Homo sapiens: one gene and its partners. Changing the gene in region 3 together with the main gene of any one other region gives a genetic interaction. Each region holds a gene or a part of one and is shown on either strand. Other genes may lie near its edges.

Region 1 (3,500 bases), on a different chromosome or scaffold from region 3:
TGTTGGCTATTCCAGTGCCAAATCCTTCCCTCCCTTTGCCTTCTTTGCAACAAATGATTCCTTTTGTTTTTAAAACATTTTCTTTTGCTCTCTCTTTGTTTTTTGAGACAGGGTCTTGCTCTGTTGCTCAGGCTGAAGTGCAGTGGCATGATCATGGCTCACTGTAGCCTCGACCTCCTAGGCTCAAGTCACCCTCCTGCCTCAGCCTCCTGAGTAGATGGGACTACAGGTGTGCACCGCCACACCTGGCTCATGATTTTTTAGTGGAGACAGAGTCTCACTATGTTGCCCAGGCTGGTCTCCAGCTCGTGGGCTCAGGCAATCCACCTCCCTCGGCATCCCTAAGTGCTGGGATTACAGGCGTGAGCCACCATACCTGGCCTGCAACAAGTGATTTTTTCAATTAATCAAAATACAAAGTGAGGAGGGGGAATCCTGCAGGTTATGAGACCAAGGTCTTACCAGCTGTAGATTTCAAAATTTACAGATTGATCATGCCTTTGCTTAGGTCTTTCTTCAAAAACTATTACAAAACAATGACTCAGGATTTGCTGGGACCAGGCTGGGCATGGTGGCTCATGCCTGTAATCCCAGCACTTTAGGAAGCTGAGGCAGATGGATCATTTGAGGTCAGGAGTTCGAGACCAGCCTAACCAACATGGCGAAACCCCATCTCTACTAAAAATACAAAAATTAGTAGGGCGTGGTGGCGGGCACCTGTAATCCCAGCTGCTCAGGAGGCAGGAGATTCGCTTGAACCCAGGAGGCGGAGGTTGCAGTGAGCTGAGATTGTGTTGCTGCACTCCAGCCTGAGCGACAGAGCAAGACTCTGTCTCAAAAAAAAAAAAAAAAAAGGATTTGCTTGAGACCATACCTGCAAAATGTTCAGAGCCCTACGCATGTCTCCACTGGAAAGAGTGACTAGTGCTTTCATTCCATCTTCACTTATATCAACTCTGAAAGAAATAAGCAAAAGGGATTTATGAGGCCCCCTGAGAGCACCAGCATTCACCAAAGGAACAAGATGGCCTGGAATGATTAAGGCTTTAAAGGGATGAAGGAAGGAGAGGAACAGAGTTAATAATCTCCTGATCTATATGATCTAGAATTCACTCTGGTTTTTAGGGACCTGGGCTTCACATTAGTAGTCACAGCCAACCAAAATCGAGAACAGCCTGAATTTAGGAACAAGCATTCTCCCATGGAGCCAGTCGTCTTGAATTCTGCTCTCTGGGGAGGACAGAGGCCTGGCACAAGCCATGATCACACAGCCGAAACTCCTCCTTCACAACAAGCAGCTGCTCAGGTCGGCTACTTGCTTGGCATCTGACTACACAGAATGTGATGTCTTAGAACCTTCCCTTCTAGTCTAAAAAGGCTGGAAGCATCTTTGCAGAAGGGACTCAGCAGCCTGCAGTTTCCAATGACAAAGAAGAGTAGGAGGAAATTGGGACAGCTTCCAGGGGAGGAGGATGGAATCAAGAAAAATGAAGTACCAAATGACTTTTATGAGGAATGGCCTTGAGACAGCAGAGAAAATGATAGCAGTGGACGGTCCCCAGTGCCTCCCCTGTGCTAGGCACTCTGCAAAGTCGTTTTCCAACATTCCTCTCCTCTACATACGAACCAGCCAGTGATCCCACAAGCCTGTTTCTACTACACTCCATCCCCAAAGGCCCGCAAAATACTCACTTCTCTTCTTCCACGACATGTTCCAGGCGGGGAACCATGAGTTCAGGAGTCAGGGGACCGAACCGAAACCTCGTGCAGCGGGACTGCAAGGCAGGGATGATCTTTGACAGATAGTTACAGATGAGGCAGAATCTGGTATTTTCTGTGAATTTCTCAATTACTAGTAAGAGAAAATAAAACCACCTCATGTCAAAGTCCATTCTGATTTTTCAGAGAGCCCAGAAAACTTGAATTTTTCTGTGGTCACAAGGGTATAGGAAAAGATTCAATACTGCAAACAAGTGAGGATGTTGGCCGGGCGTAGTGGCTTAGTGGCTCACGTCTGTAATCCCAGCACTTTGGGAGGCTGAGGCGGGAGGATCACTTGAGGTCAGGAGGTTTGGCCAACATGGCAAAACCTCTACTGAAAATACAAAATTTAGCCAGGTGTGGTGGCACATGCCTGTAATCCCAGCTACTTGGGAGGCTGAGGCAGGAGAATTGCTTGAATCCGGGAGGTGGAGGTTGCAGTGACCCAAAATCATTCCACTGCACTCCAGCGTGGGCAACAGAGTGAGACTCTGTCTCAAAAAAGAAAGAATGTAAACAAGTGAGGCTGCAGCCTATGACAAGACAGGGCAGTGCTGGCCTGTTCAGATCAGAGATTAGCCACTCCTCTTTTTTCTTTTTTGAAACAGAGTCTCGCTCTGTTGCCCAGGCTGGAGTGCAATGGCACGATCTTGGCTCCCTGCAACCTCTGCCTCCCGGATTAAAGCGATTCTCCTGCCTCAGCCTCCTGAGTAGCTGGGACTACAGACACGTGCCACCACGCCCGGCTAATTTTTTATATTTTTAGTAGAGACGGGGTTTCACCATGTTAGCCAGGATGGTCTCGATCTCCTGACCTCATGATTCGCCCGCCTTGGCCTTTGGGATTACAGGCATGAGCCACTGTGCCAGGCCAATTTTTGTATTTTTAGTAGAGATGGGGTTTCATCGGTTAGCCAGGCTGGTCTCGAACTCCTGACCTCAGGTGATATGCCTGCCTCAGCCTCCCAAAGTACTGGGATTACAGGTGTGAGCCACTGCGCCCTGCCTAGCCACCCCTCTTTCACAAACTGGTAAACATGCCTCCGTGGGATTTTACAAAATGCTTCCTTTTTACCATTTGCCATGATTCTGGCACTTTTGCCATGTAATCCCATTAAGACTATGAGACTTCTTGTCCTTTTACATAAAATTATATTTGGCAGGTTGATGACACTTCACCTTCTATGGGCAGGGAGGGCGGCTTTTTGCAGACTTTTCCATGGAGACTGTCTGGAGGCCTTAGAGCACTCAAGGGAGCAATAACCCGAACAAAGAGTTGCTTATGACACCGGTTCCATTCTGTAGGTACCCAATGTTCTCACATGGGGATCTGCCCAGAATGACAGTCACTCGGCAGAACAAGATGCCGAAGAAAGGCTGCCAAGCTTCTAGGACCAGAAGATATTCTCGCTGTCCTCCTCCTCCTCCTCCTCCCCCACCTCTCCTCCTCCACCTCCCCCTACCCTCCTCCTCCGCCTTCTCCTCCCCCTCCTCCTCCTCACCCCCTCCTCTTCCTCCCCTCCTCCCCCCTCCTCCTCCTCCCCCTTCCCCCATCCTTCTCTTAACATGTGCTGCCATCTACTCCCTCGCCACAAACTCCTAAAGATCGTTCTTCTCTCAAAGCTGATTCACTTGGAATCTTAATGAGAGATGACAAGTGTCCTTTAAGAGAAAAGAACTGCGCTAGGCCCCTGAAGACAGACAAATCGCAGGGTGCTGTCCCTCCCGCTGCCAAATCA
Region 2 (3,500 bases), about 25 Mb from region 3:
AGTCTCCTTAAAGCTCATTGTTTTCACCGTGGGCCAGGCATTGCTCTACACGTTAACTCATTTGTTCCTTGCGACAAGCCCATCTCAGTTATAGGGTCACACAGATACTCTTCAAATCTAGGCATCCGAGCTGCAAAGCCTAGACTCATTACTACCATGCTGAACTGTCCATCAGTGTTCTGACTCCAAGTTAAGCACTCTTTCTTCCACACCCTGACATCTATTTTCCTTTTTTTTTTCTGGAATAAAAACTCACCAACCAGTGCAATACCAGAGAGAACAGATAGTTTTCAGGGGTAGAAGAGTGGGAGGAACTGTTGCCCCAACTTAGAAAATATCCTAAGAGGAGACACCTAGGGAAGGGAAGTAGTCCTGTTTCTGTGTCAGACCCTGGGTGCCCACACTCCCCATCCATAAGTTCTATTTTTATGTTTTTCAGTATCTTTTTTACACTCTTTTCCTGACTTTGAGAAAAGTCCTAGCTTTATACCGTACCGTTGTTTACTTTGAGGAATGCCTAGATATGATGTGGCTCTCTGCTACCTGCATTAGGAAACCTTTCCTTGCAGAAAATAACTATTTAGAATCAGGTGCACTTGTAAATTCAACAAACATACCAAAATGTCAAGCCACGTATTCCCTTGTGTTTATTAGCTACTCACTACCTCTCATTGTGATCAGCTTAACTTTCTAGCAGGCAAACATTGGCAAATGTTGGAAGCTTAGATAAAATTCATTAAAAACATAAAATTGAGGAAACACATTAAGCTAATTCTTGCTGGAGATGATGACCATTTGTAGTTGTTAGCAGTGGGCACTCAGGGTCACAAGGGAGGACCCAGATTCTGCCTCAGAACTTTGTTATTATTATTATTATTTTTGAGACGGAGTCTTGTTCTGTCGCCCAGGCTGGAGTGCATTGGTACAATCTCAGCTCACTGCAAGCTCTGCCTCCCAGGTTCCTGCCATTCTCCTGCCTCAGCCTCCCAAGTAGCTGGGAGTACAGGCACCCGCCACCACGCCCGGCTAATTTTTTGTATCTTTGGTAGAGACGGGGTTTCACCATGTTAGCTAGGATGGTCTTGATCTCCTGACCTCGTGATCTGCCCAGCTCAGCCTCCCAAAGTGCTGGGATTACAGGCGTGAGCCACCGTGCCCGGCCCTGCCTCAGGACTTTGAAACTGGTCAGGGGAGCCCTGAGTTGGAAGTGGGGGTGCCAGAGAAGAAAGCTAACCAGGCACCCAGCTCCTCTCAAGCCAAAGCAGCACTGGAGAATACTGGGTTCCTTATAGCTCACTTGAAAAAAAAAAAAAATCTACTACTGAAAAATTCCTGTCCCTTTGTCATGGTCTCCTCTTCCTCCAGACTCCACACGAGTCACATCCTCCTCTACCAAGCCATGCCCCACATGCCCTTTTCCATACTCTGGTTGCACCAACACTACACATTTTTTTGTTACTTTTGAATTAAGTCACAAATTATCTCCCAAACTCTAAGTGTAGTGATAGGGACTACACAGTGCCCTGTTCTTCACTCCTCTGCTCAGGACATACCAAAACCAGTGAATGGTTGCAGATTCAATTTCTAGAAATGAAATGAGCATCCTGCCCATTACTATAGCCACCCCTACAATCACTCGTTCGCCCACATATGCCAAGTTCCTGGGTAGGCCTTGGTATAAAACACACAGTCCTTGTCACCAGGGAACTGCCATTTAAGTGGAATGTGGACAAGTAAACTGACTGCCAGGGCACAGATGTGAAAGCAGGTCCGGGGAGGCTGAACCCTGCACCAGCTGGAGCGCAGAGCAAGGATGCCTACAAAGTTCTGAGAGCAAAGGTGGCCTGAAACCGAGCTATGGGGAAATATCAAGTTACAACAGTGATTTTTTTGCTTGATAATGGACCAGTCCATTGGCATGCTGTTATTTTTCTCTCATTCAAGGATGAATGAGGATGAGCATTCAAGGATGCTCAGGCATTTTTTTATTTTTTTGAGATGGAGTCTTGCACTGTCACCCGGGCTGGTGTGCAGTGCTCAGCTCACTGCAACCTCCGCCTCCTGGGTTCAAGCAATTCTCCCGCCTCAGCCTCCCCAGTAACTGGGACTACAGGCACACGGCACCACGCCTGGCTAATTTTTGCATCTTTAGCAGAGATGGGGTTTCACTATGTTGGCCAGGCTGGTCTCGAACTCCTAACCTTGTAATCCGCCTGCCTCGGCCTCCCAAAGTGCTGGAATTACAGGCGTGATCCACTGCACCCAGCTCAGGCATTCTTGCTCTGAGCTCCAGCTGATGCAGGGTTCAACCTCCCCTGGACCTGCTTTTACATGTGTGCCCTGGCAGTCAGTTTACTTGCCCACATTCCACTTAAATGGCAGTTCCCTGATGACAAGAATTGCGTGTTTTACCAAGGCCTAGCCAGGCACTTGGCATATGTGAGGAAATGAATCAACGTGGGGGTGGCTATAGTAAAGGAGAGGATGCTGTTACTTTTGTCTCATTCAAAAGCAAGCAATTACACAAACCTCTTGCCTCCACTCCTCCCCAGCTACCACCTCTTTTCTTGCTCCTCTTTACCATAAAACTTCTCAAAACAGTTGTCTAACTCTCCTCAATTCCACTCCTTTCATTTTCTAAATCCAAAAGGTCATGTTAGTCCTCATCTTAATTGACTCCTCAGCAGCACTTGAAAAAACCGATCACGCCTCTCTTCTTCACTTGGTCGCCAAGACACCTTACTCTTGGTTTTCTTCCTGTCTCTCCTGTGGCTGCTGCTTCTCAAGACTCCTCTGCTGGCCGGACACGGTGGCTCATGCCTGTAATCCCAGCACTTTGGGAGGCCGAGGTGGGTGGATCACCTGAGGTCGGGAGTTCGAGACCAGCCTGACCAACATGGAGAAACCCTGTCTCTACTACTAATACAAAAATTAGCTGAATGTGGTGGCACGTGCCTGTAATCCCAGCTACTCAGTAGGATGAGGCACGAGAACCGCTTGAACCCGGGAGGCAGAGGTTGCAGTGAGCTGAGATTGCGCCATTGCACTCCAGCCTGGACAACAAGAGTGAGACGTCTCAAAAAAAAAAAATAGCTGGGCACGATGGCAGGCATCTGTAATCCTAGCTACTCAGGAGGTTGAGGCAGGAGAATCACTTGAACCTGGGAGGCGGAGGCTGCAGTGAGCCGAAGCCATTGCACTCCAGCCTGGGCAACAGGAGCGAAACTCTATCTCAAAAAAAAAAAAAAGAAAAGACTCCTTTGCTGCCTCCTTCTCTTCTCCTTTTTTCTTTTTTTTTCTTTTTTTTTTTTTTGAGACAGGGTCTTCCTCTGTTGCCCAGGCTGGAATGCAGTGGGTGGCGCGATCTTGGCTCACTGCAACCTCTGCCTCCCCAGTTCAAGCCATAGTCTCCCACCTCAGCCTCCAGAGTAGCTGGGATTACAGGCGCCCACCACCACACCCGGCCACTTTTTATATTTTTAGTAGACACAGGGTTTCAC
Region 3 (3,500 bases):
TTTAAAATAGAAGTGATTTTTTTTTGGTAGAAGAAATAGAGCATCTCACAAAATACCGTAAGTATTAAAAGCACAGACCTAAACAAAGCTAGACTTTTTTGAGGTTATGATCACGAATTTCAGACATGTCTAAATTACCTCTCTTGCTGCCAGAAGCTGCTGTACAACAGCAGAGCTCACTGTATTAGGAATTGTCAAAATCTTCTCCAAAATCACTTTTAAGAGATCTCGAACACCCTGATATAAGAAAAAAGACATGGGTTAAAATTAAGTAGTGTCTACTGTGTTAGCTAAAACGTCCGAAGGTTTCAGGGTGATATATTCCTTCAAGGTCACACCTTTAAATTTTCTGAATCAGTTACAATCTAAGTCCCTAACATTAACCCAACAGAAGAGTCATGTTCCAAAACAGAGTTCTAAAGACTGTCTTAAAATACAATGAGCAAAGAAAGTCATTATACAGTTTGTCAAGCTTTTTTGGCCCTCATAACATTAGAAGGGTTTACGTTGTTACAAGGGTCAAAAACCTTAATTATACATATAGACAGAAATATATTGTAACAAGACTTCAATGCACTCTGAAAACTTGAGTAACAATATCAAACTTTTTGGTAGAGGACTGTTTCTGCTCACTCCCTTTTGTGCTGGGATTATAGGTGTAAGCCACTGTGACTGGCCTATTCTCCCTTCTCATCCATCACATACCTTAATCTCTCAAGGATATCCAAGGCTATTCTGTTAATCATTTCCACATATCCAATACCAGTTACATTATCTGATATATAAAGAAGAAATTTCATTCAACATTTATTTATTGACTATGAACTACGTAACCAAGCTTGTAAAAGACAGAACATATACCTAAAAGAACAATTATGAAGTATCATACAAATAAGAAAATTGCATAAGTCTGAGTAAAGAGAAAATAATTAGCAAAAGCTTCTTAGAGTTAACTGTGTGATAAATCATGATTTAAACTAATAATTATCTGTTAGGTCATTACCTGTTAAATCATTTCAGATTAGAGAAAATGCAGAAATAAAGCACAGGGTCAGACACTGGTAATTCCCGGGAAAAGGACAATAACAAAAGTCTCCTGAAGATGCAGAATGGCTTTTGTAGCTATGGAGTCCCTAAGCCGTTTTATGAGACAAAACTAGAAAGTGTATGTTGTTTTTGGTCAAGAGCCCAAAGTGCTGAAGATATTAATTGAGGTAAGACCCACGTTCAAGAGAAGTGAAGCCAGGTCTTGCTCCCTTCATCAGTGATGCCTACATCCCTTCTCAGTTCCACACACCCCTGCTCTGTGCTTTCATTTGAAGGGATCATAATACTTGCAGCATGAAGGAACACGGATTCTGCTTTGTGACTTCCCTGCTCTTCATAAAAATGTATCAGCTACCTGTATTTATAAGAATGTTGGGAGGGGAGTAGCGGAGCCAGGGAAACAACTGAGTAACTTTAAATCTTTTCAGGAAATATACCACAAGAAATAGACAGATTTTGTAAATGCTTCCACATCATTTCTCTCACCTGAAAATAAGACATGCACACCGAAAAATCAATCATATCTGAAAGCAATCACTTTTTATAATAAGAAAAATATACCTTGTAATCCACTCCCCCAATTATTTTCCGAACCAGTTTAAATGTTAAGGCCCAAAGCTGTGTTCTTTCCCACTCAAGAGTGTCAGAGTTTATCAGGGATTCACAAACCAGCCTATAAAAAAAGAAATAGCCATTCCAGTTACAAGACAGAATTTTCCAAGTTCTCTAATAGCCGCCAATATGGTTTGGCTGTGTACTCACACAAATCTCATCTTGAATTGTAGTTCCCATAATCCCCACGTGTCATGAGAAAAACCATTTAAATCATGAGGGACAGTTCCCCCAATACTGTTCTCATGATAGTGAGTTAGTTCTCACAAGATCTAATGGTTTTATATGGGGATTCCCCCTTCACTGGGCACTCATTCTCTCTCCCACCACCCTGTGATGAGGTGCCTTTTGCCATTATTCTAAGTTTCCTGAGGCCTCCCTAGCCATGCCAAACTGTGAGTCAATTAAACCTCTTTCCTTTATAAGTTACCCAGTCTCGGGTATATCTTTGTTAGCAGCATCAGACAGACTAATACAGCCATAGTCTGTGCACTGTATTATATTTATCCTCACAAGTGTCTTTCATAAAAGTGATTACTAAGCACACTTATAAATCTGTGTAGTATTTTACATTTTTTACTTGTATGAAAGATCAAAAACAAAGTAAGAATGAAATAATATTCATTATGTTATATTTTACTAGAAAGAAGTCTATCTAAAGCTTTCGGTTAGATGTTTACCATCTATCACCTTGTGGTACACTGGATTTTTCCAACAGGATGGCAACAAGATTTTTGATCCCACATCTTCTTCTGAAATGTGACACTGACATTTCTCCCAAGGAGAGGTAGGGGGAAAGTCTACGTTCTCACTCCTTAGATCTGGGCAGACCTAAGACTATGGCCAAAAGGATGCAGTATGACTTCCAAGAAGACAAGGTGATACAATTTCTGCCTAGCCCTCTTTTGCACACTTGCTGTTAGGCTCCACCATGAGGTGAGAAAGTCTAGGCCACAAGGTGAGGGCCTGCGGAGGTTCTGGCTAATAATCCCAGCTGAGGTTCCAGATGACAGCCAGGAATCAACCACCAGATATCTGAGTGGGGAAGCTTTTGCCATGCTCCAGCCCTAGCCACATTGATCACAATCATTATGACCTTGAGTAAAAAGTGTCTCCTAAGCCGAGTCAACCACTAAAACCATGAATAATTTTAAAACCTGAGTATTACTGTTTTAAGCCATAAGGTGTTGAGGTTGTGCAGCAAAAGTAAAGGGTTACAAACTAATTAAAGTGATTAATTTCAGCCCCTGGGCAGAAACATCTGGTTTTGAGCCCACAAGCATTACCTAATTCAAAGACTATTACTCCTAGAAACTAAAACCTGAGGTATTATATAAAGGATTACTTGATAAACCTCACCTTCTTCTTCATTCTCTTACCTTTTTACAACAACAACCTCAACCAATTTCCAATCACATATAGAAAAGAAAATTCTTCAGATTGCTCATACCCATTAAACGTACCTGGGTGGAAGGAGACCAGTCTCAACTGCCATTGCTAAGCAGTCATAAAGAAAAGAAATTCTTTTAGGACTATGCTGACCATGAATAAACTTAACAATCCACTGGATACACTGTTCATGAGACTCCTGGAAAATGAGAGAATGATTTTACTTGGGGTCTAAAGTTACATTTTTATAACCAATAGCTAATACTACAACTGGAAGTATACCAATACTATGAAAGAAATACTTCACTATGAGCATCTGTGGATGAAAATAATTTTTAAAAAAAGCAAAATTAAAAAATTCAGATTTAGTATTTGTCACATTAAGCTTAACATTTTGTAATTACATAGATAAAATGCTACCATTTTTATTACATGGGAACTTCAAAAGTAGT
Region 4 (3,500 bases), about 43 Mb from region 3:
AGAACACCTAGGAAATTCATCACAAAAAGATCATTACCTAGGCACATAGTTATCAGGTTATCTAAAGTCAAGATGAAGGACAGAAACTTAAGAGCTGTGACACAATAGCCTCAGATAACCTATAAGGGAAAACCTAACAGATTAACAGCTGATTTCTCAGCAGAAACCTTACAAGCCAGAAGGGATTGGGGTCCCATCTTTAGTTTCCTGAAACAAAATAACTGTCAGCCAAGAATTTTGTATTCAGCAAAACTAGGCTTCATAAATGAAGGAGAGATAGTCTTTCTCAGATAAACAAATGCTGAGAGAATTGGCCACTACAAGAAATGAAAGACACACTACAAGAAATGCTAAAAGGAGTTCTAAACCTTGAAATAAAACCTCAAAATACACCAAAATAGAACATCCTTAAAGCATAAATTTCACAGGGCCTATAAAACGATAACAGAATTTTTTTAAAAAAAGGTATTTAGGCAACAACTAGCATTATGAATAGAACAGTACCTTATCTCAATACTGTATTAACATTGAATAGAAATGGCCCAAATGCTCCTTTTAAAAGACACAGAATGGCAGAATGGATAACAACCCACAAACCAAGTATCTGCTGCCTTCAAGAGACTCACCTAATGCATAAGGACTCACATAAACTTAAGGTAAAGGGGTAGAAAAAGATATTCTACACAACTGGAAATCAAAAGCGGGCAGGAATAGCTATTCTTATGTCAGACAAAACAAACTTTAAAGGAATAACAGTTCAAAAAGACAGAGAAGGACATTATATAATGAAAAAAAGGATTCGTCCAACAGGAAAATATCACAATCCTATATATGCACCTAACCCTGGAGCTCCAAAATTTGTAAAGCAATTACTACTAGAGACCTAAGAAATGAAATACACAGCAACACAACAATAGTGGGGGACTTCAATACTCCACTGACAGCACTAGACAGGTCATCAAGAGAGAAAGTCAACAAAAAAAGAATAGAGTTAAATATACCCTAGAACAAATGGACTTAACAGATATTTAGTCTCAATAAATTTAAGATAATTGAAATTCTATCTAGTATCCTCTCATACCACAGTGGAATAAAACTGAAAATTAGCTCCAAAAGGAACCCTCAAAGCTATACAAATACACGACCAGGCGTGGTGGCTCATGCCTGTAATCCCAACACTTTAGGAAGCTGAGGTGGGTGGATCACCTGAGGTCAGGAGTTCAAGACCAGCCTGGCCAACATGATAAAACCATGCCTCTACTAAAAATACAAAAATTAGCCAGCCATGTACTAAAAATACATGGTGGCACGGGCTTGTAATCCCAGCTACTAGGGAGGCTGAGGCAGGAGAATTGTTTGAACCTGGGAGGCAGAGGTTGCAATGAGCTGAGATCGTACCATTGCATTCCAGCCTGGGTGACAGAGCAAGACTCCATCTCAGAAAAAATAAATAAATAAAAATTAAAACTATACAAATACATGGAAATTAAAATTTCTGCTCTTGAATAATCTTTGGGTCAACAATGAAATAAAGATGGAAATTTAAAAATTTTTTGAACTGAATGATAACAGTGACACAACCTATCAAAACCTCTGAGACACAGCAAAAGCAGTGCTAAGAGGAAAGTTCATAGCATTAAATACCTACATCACCAGGCGTGGTGGCTCATGCCTGCAATCCTAGCACTTTGGGAGGCCAAGGCGGGCAAATCACAAGGTCAGGAGTTCGAGACCAGCCTGGCCAACATGGTGAAATCCTGTCTCTACTAAAAATACAAAAAATTAGCCAGGCATGGTGGCGGGCGCCTGTAATCCTAGCTGCTCAGGAGGCTGAGGCAGCAGAATCGCTTGAACAGAAGAGGCGGAGGTTGCAGTGAGCCAAGATCGTACCACTGCACTCCAGCCCAGGTGACAGAGTGAGACTCATCTCAAAAAAAAAAAAAAAAAACCCACACCAAAACATCTGAAGGAGCACAAACAGAAAATCTAAGGTCACACTTCAAGGAACTAGAGAAACAAGAATAAACTGAACCCAAACCCAGCAGAAGAAAAGAAGTAACAAACATCAGAGCAGAACTAAACTGTAACAAACAAACAAAAAATACCAAACATCCACAAAAGATTAACAAAACACTGGTTCTGGATGTGGTGCAGTGGCTCACGTCTGTAATCCCAGCACTTTGGAAGGCCAAGGGAGGCAGATCATTTGAGGTCAGGAGTTTGAGCCTGACCAACATGGTGAAATCCCATCTCTACTAAAAATACAAAAAAATTAGCCGGGTGTGGTGGCGGGCCACCTGTAGTCCCAGCTACTTGGGAGGCTGAGGCAGGAGAATCACTTGAACCTAGGAGGCAGAGGTTGCAGTGAGCCAAGATGGCATCACTGCACTCCAGCCTGGGTGACAGAGCGAGACTCTGTCTCAAAAAAAAAAAAAAAAAAAAAAAAGCTGGTTCTTTGAAAATATAAACACAATTGATAGACCATTAGCAAGATTAACCAAGAAAAGAAGAAGATTCAAGTAAGTTCAACTAGAAACAAAACAGGAGATATTACAACCGATACAACAAAAATATAAAAGATCATTCAATAGTACTATGAATACTTTATATGCACAAACTAGAAAATCTAGAGGAGATGGATAAATTCCTGGAAATATACAACCCTCCTAGATTAAATCAGGAAGAAAGAGAAACTCTGAACAGACTAATAACAAGTAGCAAGACTGAAACAGTCATAAAAAAACTGCCAAGAAAAAAGTCCAAGAAAACAAAAATAAATTAATTAAATTAAAATTTAAAAATTTTAAGTGCAGGACCAGATGGATTCACAGCTGAATTCTACCAGTCAAAGAAGAATTGCTACCAATCTTACTGAAACTATTCCAAAAGACAGAGAAAGGGAATCCTCCCTAAATCATTCTATGAAGCCAGTATCACTCTAATACCAAAACCAGGAAACAATATAACAATAAAGAAAACTAGAGACCAATATCCCTGATGAACATAGATGCAAAAATCCTCAACAAAATGCCAGCTAACCAAATCCAAAAGCATATCAAAAAGGTAATACACCATGATCAAGTGAGTTTCATACCAGAGATGCAGAGATGGTTTACCATACACAAGTCAATAAATGTTGGCCAGGCGTGGTGGCTCTTGCCTGTAATCCCAGCACTTCAGGAGGCCGAGGTGGGTGAATCATTTGAGGTCAGGAGTTCAAGACCAGCCTGGCCAACGTGGTGAAACCCCGCTTCTATTAAAAATACAAAAATTAGCCAGACGTGGTGGCAGGTAGTCCCAGCTACTCAGGAGGCTGAGGCAGGAGAATCACTTGAACCCGGGAGGCAGAGGTTGCAATGAGCTGAGATGGTGCCACCGCACTCCAGACTGGGTGACAGAGCAAGACTCTGTCTCAAAAATAACTAAATAAAATAAAAATAAATGTGATACGTCACATAAACAGAATTAAAAACAAAAATCACATGATCATCTCAATAGAT
Region 5 (3,500 bases), on a different chromosome or scaffold from region 3:
TGAGGAGCAATGGAGCCTACATGTGCTAGAGATTGTCTCCCTTATGTTTCGTGACCAGGTGAGACCCTGGCCTATTGCCCGAGTCCCCTCCGCCCATGTACTTTTCTGCTGTACAGCCAGAATTGCTCTTGTGATAATGGCTGCATTATCTGGGGAAGGCAGGCGACAGCAGGAGTAGCCATGTCTTGAGTTCAGTAGTACCCCCTTATTCATGGTTTTCTTTCCTTGATTTCAGTTACTCACAGTCAACCATGGTCTGAAAATATTAAGTGGAAAATTTCAGAAATAAACATTTTAGAAGTTTTAAACTTGTACATTGTTCTGAGTAGTGTGATGAAATCTTTTGTCCCTGTTTGTCCTAAACAAGATGTGAATCATCCCTCTGCCCAGCATATCCACAGTGTATACCCGCCTGTTAGTCATGTACTAGCCATCTTAGTTATCAAATTGAAAAAACATAATAGAATATGTGTATGTGCGTATATATATATGTATACATGTTCTGTTTTCTGATAACTATATATATAGCACATATATACATTCTATAAAACATAGAACGTACATGTTCTATGTATATGTGTATACACATACAAATATATATATGTATATATGAATATATACATATATATATTTCAGTACTGTCTGCAGTTTCAGGCATCCAGTGGGTGTCTTAGAACATTTCCCCCTCAGATAAGGGAGAACGACAGCACAATGCCCCATTAATGGGGTTCTATTTTGTTCACTCTTTGCATCCCCAGTAGGCGTGAACTCAGGATAAGGAATGACTGTCCTCCTGATTCTTCCCTCTTTGTTCCAATCTAGAACCCCGAGCAGCTGGCGGGAGTAGGGCAGGGACGCTTAGCTCAGGAGCGGAGTGCAGATTTTGCAGAACTGGAGGTGTTGCGCCAGCGAGAGATGGCAGAAAAGAAGACTCGAGCCCTCCAGCGAGGCAACAGGTGAGTGACAGAGAGGCAGGTTCTTTTTCCTACATCATGGAATGCTGAGGGCATAGAAGGCAAATTCTAAGGTGGGGTGATTGAACAACATTTTAGTGTTTTTTTTTTTTTTTTTTGAGACAGAATTTTGCTCTTGTCGCCCAGGCTGGAGTGCACTGGCACGATCTCTGCTCACTGCAACCTCTGTCTCCTGGGTTCAAGCGATTCTCCTGCCTCAGCCTCCCCAGTAGCTGGGACTACAGGCGCATGCCACCATGCCAGGCTAATTTTTGTATTTTTAGTAGAGACAGGGTTTCACCATGTTGGCCAGGCTGGTCTCAAACTCCCGACCTCAGGTGATCCGCCTGCCTCAGCCTCCCAAAGTGCTGGGATTATAGGCGTGAGCCACCGTGCCCGACCAACATTTTGTAGTTTTAACTTGCTCCAATGTGCCGATGATAGAGAATGGAGATAAAGTTTCCAGAGAACTGAAAAATCACCTTGGACCTTTTTGTTTCTGCAGGCATTCTCGATTTGGGGGCTCCTATATTGTCCAGGGGTTGAAATCCATTGGGGAGAGGGACCTCATCTTTCACAAAGGCCTTCACAACGTGAGTATTCTTACATCTGGAGTGGGAACATAGTGGAGTTGCATAGCTTAAGCAGGGTAATCATCTTAAGAGTTCTTGGCTGTGCCTGGTGGCTCACACTTGTGGTCCCAGCACTTTGGGAGGCTGAGGCAGGAGGATTGCTTGAGCCCAGAAGTTCAAGATCAGACTGGGCAACATGGCAAGACCCTGTCTCTAAAAAAAAAATTAAATTAAAGGTTGGGTACAATGGCTCATGCCTGTAATCTTAACACTTTGAGAAGCTAAGGAAGGAGAATTGCTTGAGCCCAGGAGTTCGAGACCAGCCTGGGCAACATGGCAAAACCCTGTCCCTACAACAAGTGAAAAATACTAACTGAGCATGGTGGCACCCGCCTGTGGTCCTGACTACTCGGGAGGCTGAGGTGGGAGGATTCCTTGAGCCCAGGAGTTCAAGGCTCCAGTGTGCTATGATTGCATCATTACACTCCAGCCTGGGTGACAGAGCAAGTTCTTGTCTCAAAAGAAAAACAAAAATTAGTTTCTTCTGAGAAAATTGACGAGAGCTGCAAGGGGAAAGTGGTATTTAGGAGTAATTCTAATCCCCCAACCGACACACCCAGCTACGAAACTACAGTTCAGATTTGGGAAAGCAGCCGAAAAAGGTGCCTAAACGTCGCCAGGCCGCCCGAGAGCTGTCCATTCAGCGCCGTTCTGCCCTCAATGTGAGGCTCTTCCTCAGAGACTTCTGCTCTGAGTTCCTGGAGAACTGTTACAACCGGCTCATGGGATCAGTAAAGGTGAGAACCTGTGAAGGATATGGAGATAATCAGGAATGGAATAGACAGGTGATGATGCAGCTGTTGGTGGGTAAGAAGTGGGGAGGAGCTCGGGGAGGCTGCCCCTGGAATGTGGACTCGTAGGTGGGAAGGATATACAGTTAGGATGTCCCTGAGAGATAGTGAAAATGCCAGGAACGAGTGGGCTCCTGGCATGACAAAAGAGGCTCTGGAAAAATTGCCTCAGAGGGAGAGGAAAGGGAGAACAGGAGAGAGTTGGAAATTGTGGATCCTAGAGTATTATAGCGGTGTCCCGGCGTGGTGGCTCACACCTGTAATCCCAGCGCTTTGAGAGGCTGAGGCAGTGGATCACTTGAGGTCAGGAGTTCAAGACCAACCTGGCCAATATGGTGAAACCGTATCTCTACTAAAAAAAAAAATACAAAAAAAAAAAAAAATTAGCCGGCATGGTGGTGTGCATTTGTAGTCCCAGTTACTCAGGAGCCTGAGGCAGGATAATCACTTGAACCTGGGAGGCAGAGGTTGCAGTGAGCCGAGATCAGACCAGTGCACTCCAGCCTCATCATGACAGTGCAAGACTGTCAAAAAAAAAAAAAAAAAAAAAAAAGACCAGGCGCAGTGGCTCACGCCTGTAATACCAGCACTTTGGGAGTCCAAGGCAGGTGGATCACCTGAGGTCAGGAGTTTGAGACCAGCCTGCAACATGGTGAAACCCCATCTCTACTGAAAATACAAAAAATTAACTGGGCGTGGTGGCGGGCACCTATAATCCCAGCTACCCAGGAGGCTGAGGCAGGAGAATCGCTTGAACCCAGGAGGTGGAAGTTGCGGTGAGCCGAGATCATGCCATTGCACTCCAGCCTGGGCAATAGAGTGAGACTCCGCCTCAAAAAAAAAAAAATTATGACGGTGTCCAGCATCCATTCCATCATCATAGGACAGGAAGGAAGAAGTTGGAAGCCCTGGAGTCATGGTGATCTTTTTTTTTCTTTTTTAAATGTCAGGATCACCTGCTTCGGGAGAAAGCTCAGCAGCATGATGAGACCTATTATATGTGGGCCTTGGCTTTCTTCATGGCCTTCAACCGAGCTGCCTCCTTCCGGCCAGGCCTGGTTTCTGAGACCCTCAGTGTCCGTACCTTCCACTTCATTGAGCAGAACCTCACCAACTACTATGAG
Region 6 (3,500 bases), on a different chromosome or scaffold from region 3:
CGCCCGGCCTAGTTTGTGCTTTTTACTTACCAGTTAGGGGTTATATTACTGTGTAACAAAATGGACGGTTATTTCTATTCATTAACAAGATTCAAGTAATAGCCTCTTTAGCCACATATTCCTTAATAACACCTTTAGACCTTATAGGGGTAATTATTTTCTATATACTTTTCCAATGTATTTGAAAGTTTGTTGGCTCTTCTTCCGTAATTATACTATATCCTCAGTAAAGAAAGTTTGGCATACAGAAAAGTTGAAGGAAGAAAATTTTCAATCACTGTTGTTCCACTACCAAGAAATAATACTTGGAGGTATTTCCTTTCAATCTTCAACATGAGGATGCTAATGTCCCCCTCATAAGGGGCCTTAAAGTCACTGACTCTGTGCACTATTTCATGAGAACATTGATGTGGGTATTTAACCGAAAGAAAACTTGAGTTTTCTTTTTTTCCTTTTTATTGTGAAAATTTGGAAACTTATTCAAAAAGTAGAATAGTTAACTAATTGATGTACCCATCAGCAAGCTTCAGTGATTACCACCATTTAATTTTGTCTGCACCCCCCCACCCACTGCCACCCCAGCCCATTCCCAGCATGTGCCTCTGAAAGAGACCAACTTTGTCCTTTAAAAACAACCACAGTTGGCTGGGCACGGTGGCTCATGCCTGTAATCCCAGTACTTTGGGAAGCAAAGGCGGGTGGATCACCTGAGGTTGAGAGTTCGAGACTGGCCTGACCAACATGGAGAAACCCGTCTCTACTAAAAATACCAAAGTTAGCCGGGCGTGGTGGCGGGTGCCTGTAATCCCAGCTACTCGGGAGGCTGAGGTAGGAGAATCGTGTGAATCTGGGAGGCGGAGGTTGCAGTGAGCCGAGATCACGCCACTGCACTCCAGCCTGGGCAACAAGAGTTGTCTCAAAAAACAAAAAAGAAAGAAAGAAAAAAACAACCACAGTTTCATCAGCACAGCAAAAAGGTTTTTGTTTTTGCTCTTGGATTTTGTCGTTTGGTTTTTGCTTAATATCAAATATCCAGTCAGTGTAAACTCGTTTATAATTTGGTCCTTTGATTTCAAGGAGCTATGATGCAGTTCGTTGTGGGGATGTGTTGTCTCCATGTCATACATGTGACTTTGTCCATGTTTGCACCCAGTTCAAGGAAGACACAACCCTAGGGAAAGACAACCCTCCCCGCCAAGCCTCTCTTCCCATTCTTAAACATAGGGTGGCGTTATTCAGGTTGGACCAGTTTAAAAAGACTAACGCATTTGTCCTCGTTGTTGGGTGTTTTTTTTCTTTAAATTTGTAAAACAGGAATAATTGTGTTAGGATGAAGTATGATACTAGGAGAACAGGGAAAACTAACCCATCGTGTTAAAAGTCAGAATAGTGCTTAACTCTGGCAGGAGGTGAGATGGTTAGTAATTCAGAAGGGGGTGCCAGGAGAGCTTCCAGAGCCATTGAAATGTTCAGTAGCTTGATCTGGGTGATGATTTACATACATAAAAACATATTAAACTTTGAACTTAAGATTTATGCCTTTTACTGTTTGCACCCTATAACTCCAAAAGAAAAGTAGAGGGGAAAAAGAGTCCCTGCAAAAGGCAGTCTTGAAAGAAAGCAAGTCTGTGATGTGGAGAATGCATTGGACAGCTCTCAGCAATTTGCTGTAGCTTGGGCAGAGAGATAAAAGCTAATGCCAGCATCAGGTTGCCCAGGCGAGAGAAGGCCTGAAAGAAGACAGCGTGGAGAAAGTGTCAGCAAGCTTCAGCAACAGCAGGAGGCAGATGGTAGGAGAGTGGGCCTCAGGTGTGGTGTGGCAGAGCAGAGTAGCCACACTTAGGCCCCAGAGACAGTGTCTTCTCACCCTCAGTTGAAGGGGCAGGAAATCAATCGCTCTAGTCACCCCTAAGCTGGAGGACGGACCTAAAGTTGCCACAGCTTTGAGAGGCAAAGAAGTTTGCTCAGTGGCTTTTAGAGACTTCTAGGGCCCTGGGACCCTGACACTGAGGAGGAGCAAACTGAAGGGGAGAGTGGGCACATTCCTTGTTGGCTGCTGTGGTGAGCAGCAGCTGGTCGTTGTCAGTCAAGCTCCGGACCACTCTGATGATGCTCACTGCATTTTGATGGAGTAAGCCAGGGACATTACCACTGTGTTTGAGCCATCTGAAGTATTCCTGGGTGGGTCTGCAGTTGGCAGCCCGTGATCCTTTTTCCATTCAAGGATGATGCAAAGGTAAGGGGCCAAGGCTGAGCTCTGTAGATGCCTGTGAGAGCCTCCTGGTCTCAAGAGGTCATACCAAGGGCCTTGGCCACCAAGGTTTCGTGAGGACCTTGAGGTGGTTTCGCCATCACAATGTCAGACGTGTCACACACCATCTGGTATGTCCTCACTGTATAGAGGAAGAAGGGCCCAAGTGGTGAATTATCTACAAGTTTGTAGCAAAGCTAATACTCAGACTCCCTCTACAGCCTTGCTACTCAGTGTAGTCTGTGGTCCGGCAGTGTCACACCACTGGGGTACTTAGCAGAAATGCAGCTTCTCAGGCTCCACTCCAGCTCTCCTCAATCACAGTCTGTTTTTTTGTTTGTTTGTTTGTTTGTTTTGAGATGGAGTTTCGCTCTTGTTGCCTAGGCTGGAGAGCAGTGGTGCGATCTTGGCTCACTGCAACCTCCACCTCCCTGGTTCAAGTGATTCTGCTGCCTCAGCCTCCCAAGTAGCTGGGATTACAGGCGCCCGCCACCATGCCCGGTGGCGTGCATGGTAATTTTTGTATTTTTAGTAGAAACAGGATCTCGCCATGTTGGCCAGGCTGGTCTTGAACTCCTGACCTCAGGTGATCCACCCGCCTTGGCCTCCCAAAGTACTGGGGATTACAGATGTGAGCCACCACGCCTGGCCCACAGTCTGTATTTTAACAAGATCCCCACCTCAGTCTTAGGCACATGGATTCTCCTCAACCCCCAATACCACAGAGTCTATTAATTTTTACCCAATAGGGAAGGGGAAAAAGTCAAGAAAGAATAATGAATTAAGTAATCTTTCCCCCTCCAGGAAGCTCTTTATTTAATTTCGCTCCCATGAAACACAATTTGAAGAGTCTCTCAAATAAACAAATTCCATTTTCTGATAATTATTTAATTGCCCCACTTTTGAAATTTTTGTCAAAGACGACTGTCACTCCCTGTCAGAACTTCTATTCAGCACAGTATACCAAGCGTTTCTCCATCGAGTTGTTATAATATGATCAAAAAGCAGGGAGAGATGCTGCTTGGTTACCCTGTGGGGCCTTATCGGGGCTCAGTGCAGTCTTTCCATGTAGGCATTCTCAAATACTCAATTGAAACCTGATTGAGGATCATTTGATCTCTGTTGGCCCTAGTGCAGTAGGCTGCTGAGAACCACTGATGCAATAGACTGAGAGACTAACTGCCTGCTTCCCTGTCAGCCCAGGCTCTGCTAAGGCCGTCTTAGTTACAGAAGAAAGTGGGGCAGAGAG
Region 7 (3,016 bases), on a different chromosome or scaffold from region 3:
GTGGGCGTGGGTCAGAGGCCCTGAACTGGAGGAAGGGGCCACGAGCCAAGGAGAGTGGGGGCCTCCAGAAGTGGGGAGGAGCGGGGAAGCGGCTTCTCCCCCAGGAACTCTGACGTGGCCCAGATTTCAATGCAGACTTGAATGGGGCCTCTAACCGTGAGAGGATAACCGTCATTTTAAAGAGAAAGACACGTGTCTGGCCTACGTCACAAGATGGCTCTTGCCACACAGTACGCTCCCTGATGTGGGGTCTGCGCCACAGGGCTGGGGGCACTGCCTGGGAGAAAAGGACCGAGACCTTTGCACACTCGACGTGCCAGGCCCCCTGTGGCCACAGTGCCTGCCTGGAGAGCACCCGGGACGCAGAGCTGCTGGTGGCCCTGGGGACAGCAGGGGGGACCCGGGCAACGTCCCCCCACCCCCCAGAGCTCTGCTCTGACCGATGCCCCCCTGAGGTGGGGTGGGCAGTTTCCTTAAAGACACAGCCGCCAGCCGCGGAGTCTGCGCGTGTTGTTTACTGTTGGTCACTCTCTGCTCTTAGCTTCACATTACCATTTCGTGTTTTGTCAAAGTCCGTCTCAATTCGCGTTTGGTAAAATAAATAGATAATGAGCCTCTAGGCCGGCGCTCTCTCGAGCCGGTTAACGTCGTGATTGAATTTTCACATCAGACCTGTGAAGACAGCCCACGTGCAGGCGGCACGCGGTGCCCATGGGGGTGGGCTCCAGGGTGGAGCGGGGGCGGGGGGGGGTCTTGACCCCTCTGGAGCCACCTGCCTTTTGACAGGTGGTGATTTTGTCTCAAAACAAACAGAAACGCGTGTTGGGTAAGAATTGAGTTGAAGGACTGGATGGGAAGCTGCGTGTGCGGGTGGAGCTGGGCTTCTGGAAGATTCTGGTGTTGCCGCCTGGCACGCCCTGTGAGCTGAGTGAGGCCGGGACTCTCTACACCTTCCGGACCCGGGCTGCTTTCTCGGCCCAGACGTGGGGATGGGATTCGTGCCGGAACCTTCTTCTGGTGGGAGCTCGCATTCCAAAAAGGAGCAGCGGAGGGGCCGCCTCTGTCCTGCCTTGTCACGTCCCGGCCAGCCCCAGCTCAGTCTCCAGCTCAGCCCCCTGAGGGCCAGGTGTGTCTCTGGCCAAATGTGACCAGGCAGGGTTCCATCCACCCAGAAGATGCTCTTGGCCACGGCAGGCCACCAGCCACACCGCAGGAGAGCCGGGCCTCGCCACACCAGCTCTCACTCCCGTGGTCGTGGGCCTCTCACCGCCAGAATGAAGCCACCTGGCTCCTTCACCTCTCAATAATCCTGATTCCCGACGAACACGGAAAGAACACTTTTCAAAATACCATCATTGTGGTTGTGTTCTGTTTGCAAAACTGCTCATACACGCCCTGCGGCCCCTCCTGGGCGGGACTGTCCACACAGCTCCTGTCTGCACCACAGGCCCAGCTGTCAGCCGAGGTCGCATCAGCATGGGCGGCTCAAGGCTGGAGACGGGGCTGGTGTCACCCGGAGCCGTCCGGGACCCGGCAGTGCCTCTTGCCTGTATGTGAGGAACGTGTGGGGACAGAGCAGGGAGACCACGCCGCCTGCATGTGTGTGCCCCCAGGTGCCGGCCGTGGTGCCATCTGCACATGCGTGTGCTACACCTGTGTGAGGGCACAGGCATGGAGACCACAGGTCGGGCTGCTGTCCCCGCGCCTGTGGGGAAGAGCAGCCCTTCGGAGGGAAAGGAGCCCCGTGGATTAAGGCAGGGGCTACCTCGCCAAGGACCTGCCTCCCCTGTGCACCGCCACAGCGGCCCCTGCTGACAGCTCTGTGTGAGAGGGGCCAAAACTGGAGTCCAGAGACCTGGAGGTGCGGGGAGGGTGGGCTGTGCGCTTCCTGCTCAGTGATGCTGCCAGCGGCCAAGGACAGCCCGGACCCCTGGGCGGCTTCCTTCACACCCGCCAGTTGGAGGGGCGTCTCCTTCTTCCTCTCTCTTGGTTTCCCGAATTTCCAGTGTCCCCCAGCTGGCTAGGAAATGTCCCTGCTTGCGTGCACTGACTGTGAGAGGTGGTGGGCCTGGCTGGGGCAGCGCCTCTCGCTCGCTCTTGGCCTGATGGGGACAGCTGCCCCAGGGACCCGTAGGAGCCCCAGCGCCTGCCTCTCCGCCAGGGCTCTGTCGGGGGGTTTTTCTGCAGCTAATGCTCTGATTACATGGAAATAAAGTGAGGTGTTTCCCCTTTCAGCGTCTCAGAGAAACACAGAACAGGAGAGGGACAGAGGCGCCGTGGCCGCGGGGGTGCACCTGGATGCTGGTGCTCAGTGGGAAGCCACCGTCAACCCGAGCCCTCCCCTTCCCTGACATTCCAGACACGACAGCGAAGACAGACAAAAGCGAGTAGCAGGGCCCTCCTGCCGTCATCAGCAGCTAAGGCAGCAGCCAACGTTCACACTGCGGGGCCGCAGCAGCCGACGCCCCGTGCCCCGGCGAGTGACAGCTTCACTATGTACAGCAGGCGGCCGTGGCCTGGTGGGCCCGGGTCACGCCGCTATCTGACACGCTTCTCCACCGAGTACACGGAGATGTAGTAGTCGTTGCTTCCCACGGCCAGGTGAGGCTGCAAGGAGAGAGAAGGGGTGAGCAGGGGTTCAGGTGCGGGCAGACACTGCGGGGGGCGGGGGGGCGCAGGCCAACCCGCATCCTTAGGCAGCTCCTGCCGGGGTCTCAGGAACCCCCACGCCCACCTCAGGCCCGGAAATGCCGGGCCGGTCCCACCAGTCCTCTGCAGGGCCCATGCATGGTGCACTCCGTGAGGGGCGTGGCGCTGCCCCGGGCCCTGCGTGGTTTTTTCAGGACTGCCCCACGGGGCAGCTCTGGGATCCAATGTCACACGTGTCAGCAGAGCTACATGCCTGGAGCCTCACAACACAAGGCGGCAGGTGGGCAGAATCCTAATCTAAAAACAACGGCCTGAAGCCACGTGGGGAGGCTGCAACCAAGGCCAGAGAGCCGTGCAGGTGGGGCCC

What was found.
Region 1: changes in MED23 (region 3) and RFC5 together harm fitness more than expected from each alone (negative genetic interaction), as found in Homo sapiens cells (one large-scale study listed by BioGRID).
Region 2: changes in MED23 (region 3) and MTRES1 together harm fitness more than expected from each alone (negative genetic interaction), as found in Homo sapiens cells (one large-scale study listed by BioGRID).
Region 4: changes in MED23 (region 3) and RNGTT together harm fitness more than expected from each alone (negative genetic interaction), as found in Homo sapiens cells (one large-scale study listed by BioGRID).
Region 5: changes in MED23 (region 3) and TIMELESS together harm fitness more than expected from each alone (negative genetic interaction), as found in Homo sapiens cells (one large-scale study listed by BioGRID).
Region 6: changes in MED23 (region 3) and SCO1 together harm fitness more than expected from each alone (negative genetic interaction), as found in Homo sapiens cells (one large-scale study listed by BioGRID).
Region 7: changes in MED23 (region 3) and RPTOR together harm fitness more than expected from each alone (negative genetic interaction), as found in Homo sapiens cells (one large-scale study listed by BioGRID).

Annotation. Positions count from the first base shown.
Region 1 is NC_000012.12:118,023,203-118,026,702, reverse strand, and holds part of RFC5 (replication factor C subunit 5), read right to left. Parts: intron 1,853-3,500; coding exon 1,693-1,852; exon of another isoform or gene 1,689-1,692; intron 957-1,688; coding exon 875-956; intron 1-874. UniProt on the Homo sapiens protein: Subunit of the replication factor C (RFC) complex which acts during elongation of primed DNA templates by DNA polymerases delta and epsilon, and is necessary for ATP-dependent loading of proliferating cell nuclear antigen (PCNA) onto primed DNA.
Region 2 is NC_000006.12:107,031,199-107,034,698, reverse strand, and holds part of MTRES1 (mitochondrial transcription rescue factor 1), read right to left. Parts: intron 1-3,500. UniProt on the Homo sapiens protein: Mitochondrial RNA-binding protein involved in mitochondrial transcription regulation. Functions as a protective factor to maintain proper mitochondrial RNA level during stress.
Region 3 is NC_000006.12:131,621,743-131,625,242, forward strand, and holds part of MED23 (mediator of RNA polymerase II transcription subunit 23), read right to left. Parts: intron 3,248-3,500; coding exon 3,123-3,247; intron 1,721-3,122; coding exon 1,609-1,720; intron 238-1,608; coding exon 139-237; intron 1-138. UniProt on the Homo sapiens protein: Required for transcriptional activation subsequent to the assembly of the pre-initiation complex. Component of the Mediator complex, a coactivator involved in the regulated transcription of nearly all RNA polymerase II-dependent genes.
Region 4 is NC_000006.12:88,953,619-88,957,118, forward strand, and holds part of RNGTT (mRNA-capping enzyme), read right to left. Parts: intron 1-3,500.
Region 5 is NC_000012.12:56,428,927-56,432,426, reverse strand, and holds part of TIMELESS (protein timeless homolog), read left to right. Parts: coding exon 1-58; intron 59-822; coding exon 823-956; intron 957-1,458; coding exon 1,459-1,546; intron 1,547-2,145; coding exon 2,146-2,322; intron 2,323-3,326; coding exon 3,327-3,500. UniProt on the Homo sapiens protein: Plays an important role in the control of DNA replication, maintenance of replication fork stability, maintenance of genome stability throughout normal DNA replication, DNA repair and in the regulation of the circadian clock.
Region 6 is NC_000017.11:10,673,534-10,677,033, reverse strand, and holds part of SCO1 (protein SCO1 homolog, mitochondrial), read left to right. Parts: 3' UTR 1-3,500. UniProt on the Homo sapiens protein: Copper metallochaperone essential for the maturation of cytochrome c oxidase subunit II (MT-CO2/COX2). Not required for the synthesis of MT-CO2/COX2 but plays a crucial role in stabilizing MT-CO2/COX2 during its subsequent maturation.
Region 7 is NC_000017.11:80,963,853-80,966,868, reverse strand, and holds the end of RPTOR (regulatory-associated protein of mTOR), read right to left. Parts: intron 2,608-3,016; coding exon 2,539-2,607; 3' UTR 501-2,538; downstream 1-500. UniProt on the Homo sapiens protein: Component of the mechanistic target of rapamycin complex 1 (mTORC1), an evolutionarily conserved central nutrient sensor that stimulates anabolic reactions and macromolecule biosynthesis to promote cellular biomass generation and growth.